2 linked regions of the Homo sapiens genome follow. The protein of the gene in region 2 interacts with the protein of the main gene of each other region in a pairwise test. Each region holds a gene or a part of one and is shown on either strand. Other genes may lie near its edges. The genes, in order: ABCD4 and LMBRD1.

Evidence for each region.
Region 1: the proteins of LMBRD1 (region 2) and ABCD4 interact in binary tests that used the Homo sapiens proteins (3 or more experiments, as listed by UniProt).

The regions. Positions count from the first base shown.
Region 1 is NC_000014.9:74,299,660-74,306,821, forward strand, and holds the start of ABCD4 (lysosomal cobalamin transporter ABCD4), read right to left. Parts: upstream 3,276-7,162; 5' UTR 3,254-3,275; coding exon 3,216-3,253; intron 610-3,215; coding exon 491-609; intron 17-490; coding exon 1-16. UniProt on the Homo sapiens protein: Lysosomal membrane protein that transports cobalamin (Vitamin B12) from the lysosomal lumen to the cytosol in an ATP-dependent manner. Targeted by LMBRD1 lysosomal chaperone from the endoplasmic reticulum to the lysosomal membrane.
Region 2 is NC_000006.12:69,793,970-69,802,160, reverse strand, and holds the start of LMBRD1 (lysosomal cobalamin transport escort protein LMBD1), read left to right. Parts: upstream 1-5,150; 5' UTR 5,151-5,279; coding exon 5,280-5,348; intron 5,349-5,551; exon of another isoform or gene 5,552-5,867; intron 5,868-8,191. UniProt on the Homo sapiens protein: Lysosomal membrane chaperone required to export cobalamin (vitamin B12) from the lysosome to the cytosol, allowing its conversion to cofactors. Targets ABCD4 transporter from the endoplasmic reticulum to the lysosome.

The sequences.
Region 1 (7,162 bases), on a different chromosome or scaffold from region 2:
TAGATCACAAATTGCTCTGAAAGGAGGGAGAGGAGTAAGAAATCAGTGATGAGGGGTTAAAAAGAAGGGAGGCTTCTTCCTGAGTCCCTGCCTCATCAGCACCCCAAAGAGATGAAAAGGGGCCGGGCGCGGTGGCTCACGCCTGTAATCCCAGCACTTTGGGAGGCTGAGGCGGGTGTATCACCTGAGGTCATGAGTTCGAGATCAGCCTGGCCAAGATGGTGAAACCCTGTCTTTACTGAAAAATACAAAGTTTAGTCGGGCGTGGTGGTGGGTGCTTGTAATCCCAGCTACTCAGGAGGCGAAGGCAGGAGAATCACTTGAACCAGGGAGGCAGAGGTTGCAGTGAGCTGAGATTATGTCACTGCACTCCAGCCTGGGCAACAAGAGAGAAACTCTGTCTCAAAAAAAAAAAAAAAAAAAAAAAAGATGGAAAGGGACCCCAAACCAGAGCTCCCCTCCCTCCTCTAGTCTGGGCTCACTCACTCACCCAGTAGGGTCAGGCACAAAAGGGTCAGGAACATCAAGGCATTTTGTGATGACCAAGAAGGAAACAAAACCTTCAGTATCTGCAGGAACCGCTGGAGAAATTGCAGATCTAACCTGGGCCTGAAGAGAAGGTGGGGAGGCAGAGAAAAGCCCAAGACAATAATTAAGCCTTAGGGAGTAGTTATTAAGCTCATCCACATTGTTCTGTAGAGGGTCCAGGCCATGCAGAAAGAATGGTTTTCAAATGCTGAAGATGGTAGGCTGGGAACAGACCACGGATACAAAGGAAATTCTTTGGCCAAGCGTGGTGGCTCATGCCTGTAATCCCAGCTACTCGGGAGGCTGAGTCAGGAGAATTGCTTGGACCTGGGAGGCAGAGGTTGCAGTGAGCTGAGATTGCGCCATTGCAACAAGAGCCTGGGCAACAAGAGCAAAACTCCGTCTCAAAAAAAAAAAAAAAACCAAAAACAAAAAACTTAAAAAATTACAAATGGATTAAAAATCTAAACGTGAAAAGTAACACTATCATGTTAATAGAAGGAAATGTAGAAAAATGTCTTAATGAAGATACCTTAAAAACCTATACAGGGGAAAACTGATGAATTTAACTTCATTAGAGTTAAATGTTTTTATTCAACACAGTGCCATAGATTAAGTTAGAAGACTTGGAGGTGGTATCTGCAGAGTGCAAAACCAACAAGGACTTGAAATCTTTATTTTTTTGAGACGGAGTTTTGCTCGTTGCCCAGGCTGGAATGCAACGGCGCAATCTCGGATCACTGCAACCTCCGCCTCCCTGGTTCAAGTGATTCTCCTGTGTCAGCCTCCTGACAAGCTGCAATTACAGGTGCATGCCACCACGCCCGGCTAATTTTTGTATTTTTAGTAGGAGACGGGGTTTCATCATATTGGTCAGGCTGGTCTCGAACTCCTGACCTCCGGTGATCCACCTGCCTCGGCCTCCCAAAGTGCTGGGATTACAGGCGTGAGCCACCGCGCCTGGCCTAAAATCTTTTTTTTTTTTTTTTTGAGACAAGGTCTTGCTCTGTTGCCCAGGCTGGAATGCAGTGGTGCGATCTCAGCTCAGGGCAACCTCTGCCTCCCGGGTTCAAGCGACTGTCCCACCTCAGCCTTTTTAGTGGCTGGGAGTACGGGCGTGCGTCAACACGCTCAGCTAATTTTTGTATTTTTGGTAGAGATGGGGTTTCACCATGTTGCCCAGGCTGATCTTGAACTCCTGGACTCCAGTGGTCCACCTACCTCAGCCTCCCAAAGTGATAGGATGACAGGTGTGAGCCACCGGGCATGGCCAGGATCTAAATCTAGAGCCTACAAGAATTCCTGCAAGCCAGGAACATAGGAAATCCACAGAGAAGTGGGAAGGGATATAAACAGGCAATTCAAAAAAGGGAAAACCCACGTTTAATAAACACATGAAAATGTAGGCCGGGAGCAGTGGCTCACGTCTGTAATTCCTTTATGCACTGCCCGTCGGGAAGTGTAATCCCTGCACTTCGGGAGGCCGAGGCGGGTGGATCACCTGAGGTCAGGAGTTCAAGACCAGACTGGCCAACCCCCCCATCTTTGCTAAAAATACAAAAAATTAGCTGGGTGTGGTGGCGCGCGTCTGTAATCCCAGCTACTCAGGAGGCTGAGGCAGAAGAATCGCTTGAACCCGAGGCGGAGGTTGCAGTGAGCCGAGATCATGCCACTGCATTCCTGCCCGAGCAACAAGAGCAAAACTCCGTCTCAAAAGAAAGAAAGAAAGAAAGAAAGAAAATGTACACGATGGGATACCACCTTACACCCCCCAGACTGATAAACATTACAAAACCAGCCGCCACTGAACGATGGAGGGATACCGGGAAACAGGAAGCTTTATGCACTGCCCGTCGGGAAGTATAAACTAGTGTGACCATTCCAAAGAACAATCCAGCAAAATTAGATATGACCAGGACCCAACTCTGGGGTGGATACCCAGAGAAATGCAACAATATGCACAAGGAGACAACTGCCAGAATATTCGTTACAGTGTGGCTTGTGGGGGTGTTAATACTAGAAAAAAATCTATCCACCACTAGGGGAATAAGTCTATGCACACAGCACCCCTCATGCAAGCACTCAGAAGTGAAAACAAGATGACTAGCATGGATGGACTCAAAAACACAATGTTGAGGAAAAAGGTTTAAAGAAAAATCACAGCATATTATATTGAAGAATTCGAAACCGCTATATAGATTTCAAAGTAACACTTGCACAAATTTACCCAAGGTGGACCGTAAAGCCACTTATATAACACACCAGAGTGGCTGTCTGAAAAGGGGAGTGAAAGGGGTCTGGGAATAGGAACGAAGAGAGGAAGTGATAAAATAAACAAGGAGCCTTGCATTGGCCCACAGGGTGTCAAGAACTGAGAAGGATCAACTCAATTTTGTGCACCTGAGGTTCTTCTTTTCAAAAAAAGAATGCCAGTTGCGAGGGTGAGGGTCCCACACCGCAGGAGATGGCACAAGTCCGGCCAAGAACGGAGGGGGCCGCGGCCGGTGCGGAGCGGCCTAGAGCGGCGGGAGGGCGGACGCCCCTTCGAGAGCTCCTCTTTCTCTCAGAAGTCACGGGGGCGAGACGGGGGCGCCAGGGCGGCGGACGAGGCACGGAGGGCAGGAAAGCCCATTCCCTACAGCCCGGAACTCCTGCTCCCAAACCTCCTCCCCGACCGCCCTGCTTACCTGGCGCCAGCTCCGGGCGCGGGCCCCGCGACCGCCATGACCTGAGACCCGAGGGACTCTGGAGCCCAGCTGCCCCTAGTTCAGTACTGGGTAGAGTCCGAGGAGGGGCGGGGCCCCGGCTACCACAGAGACGGCGTTTGATAGAGAGGAAGGTGCGGGAGACGCGGACTCTCCCGGAAGCGACCGACGTCTCTAAAAGTACCAGAGAGTGGACTCGGCTGACCCGGCGGCTACAGCGCCCCCATATTTTCTGGGAGACTTCCCTTTTGACAATAGGTATCCGAGAGTGTAACTACTTTATGGCAAGTATTTTAGATTCTGTGTATAATAGATGTTTTACATATTCTCCCAGAGAAGCCAGCATGATCTTTAAAAAAGTATAAATTAGGCTTCCAGCCGGGCCCGGTGGGTTACTCCTGTAATCCCAGCACTTTGGAAGGCCAAGGCGGGAGGATCGCTTGAGCCCAGGAATTCAAGACCAGCCTGGGCAACATGGCAAGACCCCGCCTTTACAAAAGACAAAAGCATTAGCCGGGGATGGTGGCGAGCGCCTGTGGTCCGAGCTACTCTGGAGGCTGAGGCAGGAGAATCACTTGGGCCCGGAAGGTCAAGGCTGCAGTGAGCCGTGACTGTGCCACTGCACTCCAGCCTGGGCGACAAAGAGAGACCCTGTCTCAAAAACAAATAAATAGATGATAATGATCGATAGATAAGATAGATAGTTGAATGAATGAAATGCTTATCAGTTGACTGATTAGTACCCAAAGGGAGGTGGGAAATGGCTCAAAAAAAACCCAAACAGCATGATCCCACAGGTCCCTAAATTTGAATCTGGATGTGTCTTCTCACTTTCCTCCAATCCTTATTAAGTTTCAACTGCAAGCCAAACACTCTACAACATGCATGTATCACTTGTCTTTATGAAAGTTGCAGTCTAGCTGGGTAGGTCAATCAGTTGACAATTACAGATTTTTTTTTTTTTTTTTTTTTTTTTGATACGGAGTGTTGCTTTTGTTGCCCCGGCTAGAGTGCAATGGCGCGATATCGGCTCACGGCAACCTCAGCCTCCCGGATTGAAGCCATCCTCCTGCCTCAGCCTCCCGAGTAGCTAGGATTACAGGCATGTGCCACCACGCCCAGCTAATTTAGTATTTTTAGTAGAGACAGGGTTTCTCCATATTGGTCAGGCTGGTCTTGAACTCCTAACCTCAGGTGATCTGCCCGCCTTGGCTTTCCAAAGTGTTGGGATTACAAGAGTGAGCCACCGCTCCTGGCCTTTTTTTGTTTTTGTTTTTGTTTTAGACGGAGTTTCGCTCTTGTGGCTCAGGCTGGAGTGCAATGGTGCTATCTTGGCTCACTGCAACCTGTGCCTCCCGGGTTCAAGCGATTCTCCTGCCTCAGCCTCCCGAGTAGCTGGGATTACAGGCATGCACCACTATACCCGGCTAATTTTGTATTTTTAGTAGAGACGTGGTTTCTCCATGTTGGTCAGGCTGGTCTCGAACTCCCGACCTCAGGTGATCCACCCACCTTGGCCTCTCAAAATGCTGGGATTACAGGTGTGAATCACCGTGCCCGGCCTACAGCTGTCTTTATGAAGTGCTATGACAAACATACCATACAGCAGGGGTTCTCAACTTTGGCGCCATTAAGTTTTGGGGCCTGATCATTCTTTGCTGTGTAGGCTTTCCTATGCAATGTAGGATGTTTAGCTGTATCCCAGGCCTCTACGCACTAGATGCCGGTGGCATTCCTTCTGACCTAGGCATCCCAAAATGTCTCTAAACATTGCCAAATGTCCCTTAGGGGAGAAAGGACCAAAATTCCAGCTTTACCCCACCCCCTAGCATTGAGAACCACTGCCCCAGAACCAAAGAGAAAGGCATTTAACTCAGCATGGGGAAAAGTGGAATCTAGAAAGACTTTGAAGAGGAAATAACTTTATTCAAGTATGTCTTTCTTATTTTGAAAACCAAAAAAATAGGATGCAATTTTTGAAAAATTAATAAGGCAACCAAAGTATTAAAGCAAGCAACGTCACCTCTCTAGGGTAATCTAGGTTTACAGATCTTGTCCCCTTTCAGTCTCAAAAATGTCCTAGTTTGGTATTCGGTGGCATTACTGTCCCAGGGTGCCTCAGCATTGTCTATTACTGTAAACTTTTAAGAAGTAGCAGGCTGGGCACGGTGGCTCACGCCTGTAATCCCAGCGCTTTTGGAGGCCGAAGCAGGCAAATCACCTGAGGTCAGGAGTTCAAGACCAGCCTGGCCAACATGACAAAATCCCGTCTTTACTAAAAGTACAAAAATTAGCCAGGTGTGGTGGCGGGTGCATGTAATCCCAGCTACTTGGGAGGCTGAGGCAGGAGAATTACTTGAACCCAGGAGGCGGAGGTTGCATTGAACTGAGATTGTGCCATTGTACTCCAGCCTGGGTGACAAGAGTGAGACTGTTTCAAAAAAAAAAAAAAAAAAGAAGAAGAAGAAGTAATACACCAGAGTTACCAGTGAGCAAGCGGGAGGCTACTGGAGTGCAGCAGAGCAGAGTAATGCCCAAATCAAAGGAACTTACTTCTTCAAGCTCTTCTGGCAGCGGTTCTGACAGTGATGTTGACAAAAAGTTAAAGAGGAAAAAGCAGGTTGCTCCAGAAAGACCTGTAAAGAAGCAAAAGACTGGTGAAACTTGAAGAGCTCTATCATCTTCCAAAGAGAACAGCAGCAGCAGCACAGATGATAACATGATGTTTCAGGTTAGGAAAATGAGGTACATTAGTGTTTGGGATTTTTTTTTAGACTTGTCCCCCAAGGCTGGAGCGCAATGGCACGATCTTGGCTCACTGCAACCTCTGCCTCCCAGGTTCAAGCAATTCTCCTGCCTCAGCCTCCTGAGTAGCTGAGACTGCAGGCACTCGCCACCATGCCTGGCTAAGTTCTGTCTTTTATGTCGAGACAGGGTTTCACCATGTTGGCCAGGCTGGTCTTGAACTCCTGACCTCAAGTGATCTGCCCACCTTGGCCTCCCAAAGTACTAGGATTACAAGTGTGAGCCACCAAGCCGGGCCAGTGTTTGGGATTTTAAAGGGTAATTGATATTAAATAATATTGGATGGATCCAGAAGGTGAAATGAAACCAGGAAGAGAAGGTATTTCTTTGAATTTGGAGCAAAGAAGCCAGCTGAAGGAACAGATTTTTTAAAATTTAAATTTAAAGATTATATATATATAATATATGTAAAAATATATATGTAAAATATATATATGTAAAAATATACATATATATATATATATATATATATATATTTTTTTTTTTTTTTTGAGACAGAGTCTTGCTCTGTTGCCCATGCTGGAGTGCAGTGGTGGGATCACAGCTGACCGCAGCCTCCATCTCCTGGGCTCAAGTGATCCACCTCAGCCTCCTTAGTAGCTGGGACTGTAGGTGCTGGCATCACACACAGCTAATTAAAAAAAATTTTTTTTGTAGAGAAGGCAGGGGTTGGGGGGAGGTGTCTCACTGTGTTGTCCAGGCTAGTCTTAAATTCCTAGGCTCAAGTGATCCTCCACCTTTGCCTCCCTAAGTGCTAGGATTACAGATGTGAGCCACTGCACCTGGCCAAGAACAGATTTCTGATACTGATGATGCAGTTAAGAAAACTGTGAAATTCAAGCCATATAAAACCTATACTGTTCTAGTGTAGTTGGTTTGTGTGTGTGTGTGTGTGTGTGTCTGTGTATGTGTGGTTTTTTTTTTTTTTTTTGACAGGTTCTTGCTCTGTGGTCCAGGTAGAGTGCAGTGGGATAATAATCACAGCTCACTGCAGTCTCCAACTCCTCCCACCTCAATCTCCTGAGTAGCTGGGGCTACAGGTATGCGCCAACATGCCTAGCTAATTTTTAAGTTTTTTTTTTTTTTTAAATAGAGATGAGGTCTCACTATATTGCCCAGGCTGG
Region 2 (8,191 bases):
GGAAGGATTGTGTAAATTTATAAGAGTGATTTTTGTTTCTAAATTATTCAAATTGAAATATTTATAAATGAGCATGTATTCCCTTTGTAATTGTAAACAGCAAATAAAAATATTATTTTAAAAAAACTCTGGTCTGATTCAGAGGCTTCTTAGATTTAAAAACATCATTCAAGAGAATGTGTTCAGTCCTTGCTGATCTGATTTATATGTTAAATGACTAGACTTAAGAATAAAGAGAATGTTGATATGCATGCCTATACCTACCCCCCAAAATGACTTTTTCTTCTCACTCTACTCATCTTTCTGATTCAAATTACTATTCCTCTGTAACTAGTCACTCTTGTCAACAACACAGAAATATGAGGCTTTTCCGAACTGAAAGTCAAGCAACTGCCCAATACAACTTTGGCAGTCAGAGGCAGCAAAAGGGTTCGGCCAGTTTATTTAATGGACTTAATTCAATGGAGGGCACATCAGATGTTAAAAATATTTAGTCCAGATTCAGTAAAAGCTCCAATTTCACATATAATTTAAAGCAGTGGGGAAGATTTTTTATCATAATAATTTATGTGACCCAATATATCCCAAATATTATCATTTTAATATGTAATCAATATATAATTGTTAATGAAGTATATAGCTTTTGGCACTAAATCTTGGCAACTCTGTCTATATGTTAAGTTTTCAGCACATGTCAGTTCAGAGCAGCCTATTCCATGTGCTCAGCAGCCCCACGTGGCTAGTGGCTGCCACACTGAAGTGCAGCTCTGAGGGCTCTGACTCTCTTGATCTAAGGAAGGTGAAGGGCCTGAAACACTCTTTCCTGCCAGAAGTGAGGGAACAGCCTCTGCCTCCCAACAACTCTCCTCAGGCCCAAGGGTGAGAGATTTTTGCCCCTAGAAAGCAGGGTTTACAAGAAGAAAGTGTCCACAGTTACCACTGCTGCCCACCTGGCGTCCATCTTCCTTCCAGAGATCAGACAGTAAACAAAGGATGATAAGGCCCCTCAAAAAGGAAACTCAATGTCTTCAGATCTGTCTACATCCTTGATCTCCAAAGTTTAGGTATGGAGGAAATAGATTAAAGGTGAACTTCTTATTTTGCTATTTGCTATTTGGCCTTGGCCCTAATGGTCAGGCCATGGCTGTTTCCTCCTGTGGCATGGCGGACTGCGTAATTTAAGCACCAATCACATGCACACATCTACATGCATTTTGGTATAACTCACCACCATCTAACAAGAGATCCAACTTTAAATAAGGGGAAAATGAAATCTGTACCTGTCGGGTGCTTTCTGTTTGCAGGTAACTAGTAATCAACCTGTCATTGAATCCTGACATCCCATTCATACTGGGTACATATATTACTTAGCTATTGTATAACAAACCATGCAAGACTTCCTAGCTCATGATGGAGTTGCTCAGCCATTTGGGCAGGGCTCAACTGGGCCATTCTTGTGGGCTCAGGTGGGCTCCTTCAGGCATATGTGATCAGCTGCTGTTGACTAGGCGGCTCTGCTTCTGAGTGTGAGTTGGCTGTCAACTGGAGCAGTTTGGCTCTCCTCCCCATGGTATCTCATTCTCCAGCAGGCTAACATGGGCTTGCAGTCATGGAGATGGTAGGGTTCTCCAGAAATGGGACATTTCAGCAAATTTTGACTGTCCTCAAGATCCTTAGGGGAGTCTTTTTCCTTTCAGCTCCAGAACCCTCTCACTGGGTCCTGACTCTGGGCTCCCTTTCTTACCTCCAGGTGAGCAGGAGACCTGGATCCTGGTCCCCAGAAAAAACGGAGGCCCCAGGGCTTCCATGGAGGAGGGTCAGATTTTTATTTTTACTTGTCTGCATTCTAACTATGAATTCTCCCTTATATGCATAATTAAAAAGGGATTCAAGAATTTATTATATAACTCTTAGACCCCTCAGACAAATAAAATTTCTACAAATGTATTAGCAAGAGGAGAAGATTCATAAACAGATTTATTTAATGAGAACTGTTGCTGACCTGTGGAATTCCATCCTTAACTCCAAAGAGTGGTGTATTTGTGGGTGAGGTGGAGGGGTGGGTGGGTTGGAGTGGGGTGTTACCTTCTAACCCTTAGCCTAGTAAGGGAGGCCTCAAGGGAGCTACTTGGAGAATTTGAAATATGGCCCCTGAAATTGAGGACACAGAGGGCTAGTGTCTGACCCAGTAGAGAGAACTACAGTGGACTGTAGCATCAGGGGCTGACTTTCTTGGGTATAATCAAAAAGGGCTGATTCCTTTGATTGTAGAACTAGGAGAATGGAGCTACATTGGGATTGGCCTGTGCTCCCAAAGTTGTTGGTGCAAGGTATGTATCATCATTCCTACAGAGGGGATTTAGACTATTTGGGGAAAGGGGAAGAACTGGCTTGGGGTTGTCTTAGGCCTCTCCTCCAACTTAAATGAGCTTCTAGAAGAAGATTACAAGACCTCAGCAGGAAAAGGAATAATTAAGTATACCTCAGTATGCTCTGGGGCTTGTGGAGGAGATATAAGTGACTACCTGTCAGTGGCTCAAGTCCCTGCAAGTTTGTGTCTTTCCACAGTCAGACTTTTGTTGATGCTATTTCAATCATAAAAGCCATGAGCTGTATGAAGGTCCGAAGGAGGTAATTTTCCTTAGTAGTACCCATTCATTTGGTAGTCAGAACCAAGGACACAAAGCTCTAGCCACTCCACAAGTCAGTCAATATTGCAAACCAAACATAGTAGTATACATAACATATAAATATTATAGGCTAAACATTCTAAAAGAAAATAACATTTAACATCAAGAGAAAGGTTAGGAAAACAGGATTAACCAATCCAAGGAGAGCAACATGGACAAGGAGAGTGTCCTCGGCTGATCAGGATGCATATCAACATTTTGCAAGGAAGAGTCTTTGATTTGAGCAGAACCTTTGGTGGCAGATGCTAGATGCTGATCATGAGTGACAGTAAGACAGTGTCTGTTAAGATGGCTATCTTGAGCTGTTGAAGTTCTACTCTTTTTATAGCCTCAGAGTCCTCTGGTGTTGACTGATAGTAAAGAGTGTGCCTGCAATAGCAAATACTTGGAACCAACTGAAATGTCCATCAGTGATAGACTGGATTAAGAAAATGTGGCACATATACACCATGGAATACTATGCAGCCATAAAAAAGGATGAGTTCATGTTCTTTGTAGGGACATGGATGAAGCTGGAAAACATCATTCTCAGCAAACTATTGCAAGGACAGAAAACCAAACACCACATGTTCTCACTCATAGGTGGGAATTGAACAATGAGAACACTTGGACACAGGAAGGGGAACATCACACACTGGGCCCTGTTGTAGGGTGGGGGAAAGTGGGGAGGGATAGCATTAGGAGATATACCTGATGTAAGACTAGTTAATGGGTGCAGCACCTCAACATGGCACATGTATGCATATGTAACAAATCTGCACGTTGTGCACATGTACCCTAGAACTTAAAGTATAATAATAATAATAATAATAATAATAATAATAATAAAAGAGTGTGCCTGGTTATGTCGTTATCTGGTTGGGTGCAGTCTCTATTGATTAGGTGAACATCTGGTCCCTTTTGGCATGATTCCTTTTGAAATGTAAACAGAATCTTTTTCTAAGAAGTAGTTACTTATGTCAAGGGTGCTCTATACAATCTGGAATAGAGATATCAACCTGGAAGCGATACCTCTCTTCACTTTAAGGAAGCTATGACAGAGGTCTCCAGGGATATGAATTATTAGGAAGAAAGAGTGAAATTCAAACATTTGCAGGTCTAGAGGGCTTAAAGCCAGCTTATGATGGTACCAGTTCAAGTTAAAACTGTATTCTCCCCTATTCCCTTCTTATTCTGTCCAGGCAGGAAGGACCATCCTATTTTTTCCCTCAGGCTTCCAGCCGGAAGTAGATTATAGGTAGAGCATAACTCATCACCACATAATACATTGGAAAAAGATGATGGTATTTTTTCTCAGAGTTGTTTCTTGACTACATCACAGTGGTGAAACATGCACTCACACCCCTGTGGACTCAGGTAAGCCATCCCAAGAGTTTCCTCCCTGTGGACTCAGGTAAGCCATCCCAAGAGTTTCCTCCTTCTTCTTCATTGTGGGCCTATGGCAGTGTGTTTTGTTTGCTGATGCATATACCTTTACATACAAAGCTATCATGGAAATTCACAGGCATGCATACATCTGAATAGAAAGGCTATAACATCATGTGATAAGTTCATGTCCAGCCAACCAGTTATCCCGGCTGGGCACCAGTGCCAGTAAATTAGAGTGATTTGGGCAGCTAGTCAACTTTTATTCAGAGTCAGCTGTCTCATGCGTCCGTGTGAAGAGACCACCAAACAGGCTTTGTGTGAGCAACATGGCTGTTTATTTCACATGGGTGCAGGCGGGCTGAGTCCGAAAAGAGAGTCGGCAAAGGGTGGTGGGATTATCATTGGTTCTTACAGTTTTTCGGATAGGAGGTGGAGTGAAGAGCAATGTTTTGGGGGTAGGGGGTAGATCTCACAAAGTACATTCTCAAGGGTGGGGAGAATTACAAAGAAACTTCTTAAGGGTGGGGGAGATTATAAAGAACATTGATCAGTTAGGGTGGGGCAGAAACAAATCACAATGGTGGAATGTCATCAGCTAAGCTATTTTCACTTCTGTGGATCTTCAGTTGCTTCAGGCCAGCTGGATGTATACGTGAAGGTCACTGGGGATATGATGGCTTAGCTTGGGCTCAGAGGCCTGACATCAGCCATTCTTGCAACCTGGTAAGGAGTTCTGCTAATCACACACATTCCACCTTGTACACGAGGGCCAAACTTCCTTTTGGTGAAGAAGTATAAACCTCTAAAATTGACTTGGATCTCCAGGTCCACCTAGCCCATTCTTTGTGGAGTTCCCTTGCTGTTCTAGTCTATCAACTTAGGCTGAGTCAAATATCTCAATAGGTTGCCCAGCTATGAGCCAACACCCTGCTCTGCAGCCCTCCCACATCTCAGCTTGCAGGGAAGCCAGCGAGGGCAGCGTGGTGATGTCACTGCGTCCGCACGCGCCCCGCCCCTGAGCAGTCCTTGCTGCCCCGCCCCCGCTCGGCTCGCCGCCAGGGGACGCTAGTGGGTCCAGTCTCCTTGGCAACCACTTGCTCCTCCCCCTCCGCCCCTTTAACCTTTAGGGTGCGCGGGTGCAGTATATCTCGCGCTCTCTCCCCTTTCCCCCTCCCCTTTCCCCACCCCGGGCGCTCAGGTTGGTCTGGACCGGAAGCGAAGATGGCGACTTCTGGCGCGGCCTCGGCGGAGCTGGTGATCGGCTGGTGCATATTCGGCCTCTTACTACTGGTAGGGGAGGCGCTTGGAGTTTTCCCCATGTTTGGACTGGGGGAGGAAGGGAGGGGCAGGCCCTGCAGTTGGCCTCTCCGGGCCCCGGAGACCCTCTTCGCCCCGCCCCGCTTTTAGCTTGGACTGTGGAGGGCTCCTTAGTGTTGGGGGCTTGGGCGGGCGGCGGGGGCAGGGGGGTGTCGATTTCCGGTCTCTTTTGCTGTCATTTCACCGATGACGTCTAGGGTTGCAGGGTCCTTTTTGGAAGCTCTTGCCGTCATCGCTGACTTGGGCAATGGGGCCGGTGGGGTTTGGGGGCGGAAGAGACCCTCGGGGTTGAGAAGTATGTGGTGGCCTTTCGTCCCCTGTAAAACATTGTCACACGGTGTGGGGCGGCAGCGCTGGATCTTTGCAAGTTAAGTAGGCGCTGGCGTTGTTTACTTGTCACCTTCTCTGTATGTTTTTTCCCTCATTTTCCCTACCCTTGGGGCTAGTGAGTCTCCAACCTCTGTGCCCATTGTGTGATTCTGCCTTGATGACGTGAGTTGCTCGTTCTGACTTCCAGGTGTCACATTCTCTTCTAATCTTTTTTTGATTGGTGTAGATACCTGTGGAGGGCGGAGCTGTAGCCCTCTTTATTACCAGTATCGGAGTATATACTACTACCTGTCTGACCTCAGGTGCTTTCTTTTCCAACGATCTTATTTCTGCATATTCAGTGAGCAAAGTGTAGATAGAAATGTCTCAGAGTGGCCTGGCTATTACTTCCCTGTTCATATTAAAACCCTTTGGTTTATTTGGGAGTTCAATTTATTTCCTTTCATAACTTCTCTACCTTCTCAAATCTTCTCTTTTCTCATCGTCCGAGGCTGTAGTTACTTTCTGTTCTCACGTATTTTGACCTTTTTGCATTGCAAAACAAAAACCTCCAGTTCTGGAAATCAGGCTTGTTTGGTTTTACTTTAATTGTCAGATCCAGTTGGTGTCTGGTACCTATGTAGTATGTTCTAGTAGATTTTTGCAGTAGAGACTAAAAAAAGAAAATAAAAGAAAAGAATGGTGTGAAAATTTAAGAAAAGGATCCTCTTGTTACTGCCATCACTGTCACAGATAAAAACACTGCCTTTACCCTGGAACATGTTAGTCCTCTCTTGGAGGAAATGAAACCCTAAAGGTTGACTGTGGTCTCTGCAGCCACCCAGTCCTGTATTTGGAGAGCCCCCTGGCTTTTCCAGTCCATCAGATTTAGTTTGTTTAGAAAAAAATAAATAAGCATGTAATGTATGAAAGTTACGTGAGACTATCTTGGCAGTTATAAATTAATAAACATTTACGGTACAGAAGTGGTGTGAATTGTAAGAGGATGTAAACCAAACAAAATACGGCTTTAAAGAGGGCCTGAAGATAAGTGAGAAAACTGAAATTCTTGAAACATGTATTTTATGGACCGAAAGCCAAAGTGTGACTATAAATAAAGCAGGACTTAAGAGAATAGACAACAATATTGGAAGAAAATGAGAATTGTGGTAGAGTTTGGATAGATGAAGAAGAGAGGCCATTTAAGTTGGCAATATTACAGCAAGGACAAATAAAATCAGAATTGAATGTTGTCGTGGATAAAAGCATTAGGAAGAAGGACTTTTGTTTAAATTTCTGCAAATCTCTTTAAATCCTGGTTTATTAGAAGAAAGGCTGGTTTCTTTTGTTGCCTTCTACATTCAGTCTTTTGGGGTATGTTATTTTAGTCGAAGTGTATGGAGAAAATACAGCTGCAATGATAGGTAGTCAGAAACAGAGGAGCGTTTTTCAGATAATTGTGGATGTTTTTTGACACTACACCAAAGCTCAACAAGTGGAAGATTCATGTCAGCTGCAAGGTGGAATCTGAAACCCTATCAATGAGCATTTCATTCATTGTTACATTAAAATCCATTAGCCCATCTTGCACTTTGAAAGGCTCTTTTACCCATGCATGGTTTTATAACATGATGCCATGGCCACTTAGAAAATGTTGGTTTACTGAGTTATGCACATCTTTTAAATATGGATACGTTTCATTACACAATATCAAAATATCACATTTCATTAAATTACAACTGATCTTGTCAGAAATGTCTCTGAAAATTCTAAGTATTGAAGAGTTGTCAAGCTCATACTTGTGGATGTAAGTCTTTCAAAATCCAATTTTCATTTGAAAGTTTGACTCATAATTATCATTGGTATCAAATACTGTCAGTTTTTCTTTAAGTGATAGATTCCCTTTGTTCATTTGACAAAATCTGCCAAAAAGCGAAGTCTGAATAACCAGTTTGACAATTGTTCTTTCAAGTAAAAATGGTGTTCCTTGAAGAGTGGTTGGTTTAGCTTTTAACTCTAAACTTTTCCTGGAGATAGCCATCACATCTTGGTATGCAGCAGGACTTTATGTACGCATGCTTCATATTTTACCCCACAAAGTATTAAAAAGAGTCAAGGGTTGAATTTCAATAAAATGAATTTATGCTGCTTTGTGAAGCACAGTCTTAATTTAAATTGTCCCTTTTTGAACTTGTGGTGAAGAATACAATGATTACTGGTGCAGTTTGGTGCCACTGTCTTGATTCACGCTAATGCACCAGTAGTTTTACCCACTGTGGCTATGAACCATGAGTGCAAATGTCAGCACAGTGAAAAAGGCAAATAGCATCTTAGTATTTATTATGAGAATAGTTTTCAACTTCTGAATCTCCAGAAAGGATTCTGGGGACTACCAGGGCCTAGGGATTTCACACTTGGAGAACTTCTGCCAATCATCTACTAAATATTCAGGACATGGGCCAGGTGTGGTGGCTCACACCTGTAATCCCAGCACTTTGGGAGGCTGA